2 separate regions of the Homo sapiens genome follow, and region 2 is linked to region 1. Evidence: fine-mapped expression QTL. A gene starts in region 1. The other region holds a variant in brackets. All regions are shown on one strand. Distances are between the middles of the regions.

What was found. PIP is the estimated chance that this variant, and not a neighbour inherited with it, causes the effect. A credible set is the group of variants that fine-mapping cannot tell apart.
Region 2: its variant is the best candidate, but not a certain one, in a credible set for the expression of API5 in whole blood (INTERVAL, PIP 0.59).

The regions. Positions count from the first base shown.
Region 1 is chr11:43,310,472-43,313,311 of GRCh38, forward strand. It overlaps API5 (apoptosis inhibitor 5), which reads left to right and starts at 1,525. Exons shown (of 14, transcript NM_001142930.2): 1 at 1,525-1,725. The coding sequence starts at 1,657. RefSeq lists an enhancer at 1,278-2,053.
Region 2 is chr11:43,385,621-43,388,460 of GRCh38, forward strand. The region is part of intron 2 of TTC17 (tetratricopeptide repeat domain 17); the gene reads left to right. Among named protein-coding and RNA genes, the nearest start is that of TTC17, 28 kb to the left of the region's middle. The variant C/T (reference allele first, on the strand shown) is at 1,249.

The DNA.
Region 1 (2,840 bases):
CATGATCTGGGCTCACTGCAACCTCTGCCTCCTATGTGCATATAATTCTTCTGCCTCAGCCTCTCATGCAGCTGGGACTACAGGTGCATGCCACCACGCCTGGCTAATTTTTGTATTTTTAGTAGAGACAGGGTTTCACCATGTTGACCAGGCTGATCTTGAACTCCTGACCTCAAGTGATCCACCCAACTCAGCCTTCCAAAGTGCTGAGATTACAGGCGTTAGCCACCGCACACGGCTATATATATATATAATATTATTATATAAATATAATTATCTTAATATATAAATATATATTATTATCTTAATATATATAATATATATTATTATCTTAATATATATAATATATTATTATCTTAATATATATTATTATCTTAATATATAATTATATAATAATATACAATATATAATATATATTATATATATAATTGTATATATAATATAATATATAATATATATTATAATATTAATATCATAATATTATATATGATATATAAATATAATAATATATTAATATATATTAAGATAATAATATTAATATATTAATTATATAATTAATATATTATATATAATATAAGATAATTATAATATATAATTGATAATATTGATATATTAATTAATATTATATCTCAATATATAGATATATTATAATTATATTATATAATTAATGTATTAATTAATATTATTATCTTAATATATATTAATATAATATTATTATATTTATATTATATATTATATATTTATATATTAATATAATATTATTATATTTATATTATATATTATATATTTATATATTAATATATAATGTTATATATTATATAATATATAATATTATATATTAATATATAATATTATATATTATATAATATATAAAATTATTATATATTAATATATAATGTTATATATTATATAATATATAAAATATTATATATTATATCATATTATATATATAATTTCATTTAAACTTGTATCTTAGAAATTCTTATCAGTAAGCGTACGTGATTTCATTTATTTATTATTCTTTTGGATACTGGACATAATCAGGTGGCCCCAATTCTTTACACTGGCAGCAAAGATAAGCAAATTCTTCCAGCAGGCCAAATTTGACCCCGCACTTGATGAGCGTGGTGGACACAGAGGGTTTTTTAATAGCATAGGAATGTTTTTTGCTTCCCACCGGACCCACTAGCCTCTAGTGCCACCGATTAATATTACCTTCCTTGAATCAGGAGGAAACCATTTGTGACTTCTCATATGTAAGATCTTCTAAGGGCAGAAACGCAATTGTCTTTGTATTCACTTCCCCGCCCACCCACACCCCTTCCATGGAGAGCCTGCAGCCAAGCTCAAGCTTTCAAAAAGGCGTGAGCTAATTCAATCATCCTTGCCGCTTTTTTGCTCCTCCAGGCTGTAGAGGGCGACAAAAACCGCGGAGGCGCATTGGGGTGGGGGGTGTCTACTGAAGGCCGCTCCCGACGTGCGCGTCTTTACGTAGACGTCGGGGGCGCAGCCGCGCTGTGCGCGGTGACTGGCGGCTGCACTGGCGGCAGCTGGAGGTGTAATAGTGCGGGTAGTGGGTTTGGAGAAGTTCCGAGGCGGCGGTGGCGCCGGTCAGGACAAGGATAGCGGAACCGGGCCCTGGGCTTGTCGCTCACCATGCCGACAGTAGAGGAGCTTTACCGCAATTATGGCATCCTGGCCGATGCCACGGAGCAAGTGGGCCAGGTGAGTTGAGTCCCCGGGCGGCCTGCAGGGCCTGGCGCTCCGCGGCCTTTCGAAAGCGCTTCCCGCCGCACTCCCCGGGCCGAGCGGGGGCTGCGGCTTCATCCTCCCGGGGCCTCCTAGCCTCCTCAGGCCGTCTCGTCGGGGTGGGCCTCTCTGGGAGTGTAGACTCTGGTTTCACCAGGGAGACCGCGGTCCCCAGGGTTCCAGGCTTCCTTGCCTCCCTTGCCCAGCCTTTTCTCACCGTGGCGTAACCTAACTCAGCCCGTTCAGGCTCACGTTAATTCTTCTCACGGAGCTTTTCTCTACAGGATTCTCTTAAGCCTTTCTCCTTTTCGGTGGAGCTCAGTGCTTCCAAGATTAGATCGGGAGTTTTCTTCATGAGGTCAAGATGTGTTTTTTTTGGGGGGGAGGCAAAATTCTGCTACTAATTGAAGAAGAGTGTTTAGGAGACAGAAGTTTGTGAGAAACAGAAGAGGGACTCTTTGGTCCAGACTTTGATGAGAGCTCACGGTTTCATTTATTCAGTGCATTTTTTTGAGTGCCGAGCGCTGGAGATACAGATGGAAAGGTCCGCGCTCTCCCAGAATGTACAGTTAGGAGGGAGTGTAGTAAGAAAGATAGGCATTGTGAGGCCCGGCTTGGTGGCTCACGCCTGTAATCCGAGCACTTTGGGAGGCCGAGGCGGGCGGATCACGAGGTCAGGAGTTCGAGACCAGCCTGACCCACATGGTGAAACCCTGTCTCTACTAAAAATACAAAAATTAGCCGGGCGTGGTGACACGCGCTTGTAATCCTAGCTACTCAGGAGGCTGAGGTGGGAGGATTGCTTGAACCCGGGAGGCAGAGGTTGCGGTGAGCCGAGATCGCTTCACTGCACTCCAGCCTGGGAGACAAAGCAAGACCCCGTCTCAAAAAAAAAAAAAAAGGTTTTTTTTAAAAATTTATTCTTTTTAATGAAACATGTTTGAAGAAAATAAAACAGGGCTGGGCGAAGGAGAGTGTGAGTGCGCAGCTCTGAATGGAGTTGTCTGGAAGAGCTCTCTTAACGATGCTTGCCCCCGATACACAGTTTCTCAGCAGTGTTGAATTATCCATACAAGTCATTTGTTCCCTGT
Region 2 (2,840 bases), 75 kb after region 1:
AATCCCAGATACTTGGGAGGCTGAAGCGGGAAGATTGCTCGAGCCTAGGAGTTTGAGTCCAGACAGGACAGCATAGCAAGAGCTTGTCTTTAAAAAGAAAAAAAAAAAAAAAGACTGAAAAGAAATGAGTTAAATATTCAACACGAGTTAGAAAACATAATAAACCAAATAACTAAAATAACCTAATATAAATATGGAAATAATATTATAAATAACATAAGAAATTAAACAGTCTCAAGAAAACAGTATTGTTTATTTAAAAAATAAACCAAACTCTAGCAGCAAGGCTTACCAGAAAAAGAAATGACAGAAAAAAAGAAATGTTAGTGATGAAAAAGCAGATATCAGATAAAGATTTTTTAAACTAAAGACATAATTATTAATACTACAAAAACTAGACCAATATATTTGAAAACTTAGGTATAATGTAAGGTTTTAGAAAACATGAAATATAAAAATTGATTGAATAAATGGGGAAAGGATAGACTTTTTATAAATGATATTAGGAAATTGATTGTCCATGTGGGAAAAAAATACCTTTCAATGTACAAAAAAAAAAAAATTTCCTATGCAGTTTAAAAATCTAAGTATGAAAAGTGAAACTTTTTACTAAAAAAAAATATTGATAGTCATGCATTGCTTAACGTCAGGAATATGCTCTGAGAAATGTGTTGTTAGGGGATTTCACCATTGTGGGAACATCATAGAGTGTACTTACACAAACCTAGGTGATAAAGCCTGTATAACATGTTACTGTACTGAATACTGTAGGCAGTTGTAACATAATGGTAAGTATTTGTATAACTAAGCATAAAAAAGGTACAGTAAAAATGTGGTATTATAATCTTATGAGACCACTGCTGGGGTCCCTTGTTAACCAAAAACATCTTTATGTGGTACTTGACTGTAGTTGATTGATGTAATTACGATCTCAGGTTTGGGAAGGATTTCTTAAATAAAACAAAGTACAAACAATTAAGAAAACAGTTGATAAAGTTGCCCACCTTATAATTAAAAGTTTTTCTTCAAATGACAAAATTAAAAGATAAGCTACAAACTAAAAGCTGATACTTGCCATGCATATAACTCATAGAGGATGAGTTTATAGAATTACTTTTTCCATAAATTTCTATAGATTAATTTCTTACGTATGTATGTATTTATTTATTTATTTATTCATTTTTGTGAGACAGGGTCTCACTCTTGCCCCAGCTGGAAAGCAGGTAGGATGATCATTGCTCACTATAA[C/T]CTCATTGCCTGGGCTCAAGCAGTCCTCCTACCTCAGCTTCTCCAGTAGCTAGGACTACAGGCAAGCACCACCATCATACTTGGCTAACTTTGTTTCATGGGGATGGGGTCTCGCAGTATTGCCAGGCTGGTTTCAAACTCCTGAACTCAAGTGATCCTCTAGGCTTGGACTCCCAAAATGCTAAGATTATAGGCACAAGCCACCACGCCAATCCTACTAATCAGTTTTTTAAAGAAGAAAAGCTATTGGGGGGAAAAAATAAGCAAACTTAAACAGTTAATTCACAAAATATCTCATAAACATATGAAAATATGTTCAATCTTATTAAATATTATTCTATTGGTTGATATAGTCCATATTTTATAGTGTATTAGTCAGCTTTTGCATTGGCAACAAATAGCCCGCAGAACCTCAGTGCTGTTCTCATGAAGGAAAGTGAAGGCTCAAGGAAGAACAACCAAATAATATAAGCCTGGTTAAAGTTTCTACTGAGAAGTGACATACACCATCTTTACTCACATTCCATTGGCCAAAGCAAGTCATGTGGCCATGCCTTGAAGTCAGTAGGGCAGGATAGCATATCTCCATGAAAAGTGTGGAGGGAATAATTGGAAACAGATCATAGGCTCTGTCCCCATTAATAATAACCCCAAAAATCTTAATGGCATAAACAATAAGGTCATGCTAAGTGATCATTTGGGGCTCTGTTGGGGATCTGTACCATGTCACTGTGATCCATAAGACAGGACCTAGGCCGACAGAGCAGCCTCTGTCTGTAATTTTGGCATTCTCAGTAGCTGAGGGAAAAAGAAAGAACATGGTGAAGCACACACTAACTCTATAAAACCTTTCCTATAAAAGGGTCACATGGGACTTATGTTACATTGGCCAAAGCAAGTCATGTTGCCCAAGCCTGAGTCCAGCAAAAACAGTGATGTATCATGTAAGGAGGGGCAGGATATTAGTGAATAGTAATACAGTCCATCACAATAACATAGTCTACTACCATAATAAATATAACAAAATAATGTTTCATACCTATTTGATTGGCATAAGTTAAAAAGTATGACAAAACCAAACATTGCTAAGATTCTGGGGATATAGGTGTTATGATCTACTGGGACAATTCTAATTGTTATAATCACTGTGAAAAGCAGATTGACACGTCTATATAAAACTGAAAATGTGCATCCCATATGACCCCCATATTTCTGCCCTTGCTAGAATTTTTCACATGTATACAAGGAGACATTTATAAGAATATAGTAGCATTTTTAATAGCAAAGAAAGTTTTTCTTAAAGAAGCAACATAAATGTTTACAGGAAAATGGATAAATACATATTTATACATCCATTTAAATGAAAAATTTAGAGCTATCCTGACTAATGTAGATAAATCTCAAAAACATACATACTTTTTTTAAGTTGTAGATACATTAAGTATGATACCATTTATATAAAATTTTAAAACTTACAAAGCAATGCTGTATTTTGATTTTTGATACACATATAATGAAAGTAATATTTTAGGAGAGTAAGAGTAATGTAGTATTTTATACAAATATTTATAAAAATATACATGGAAATGACA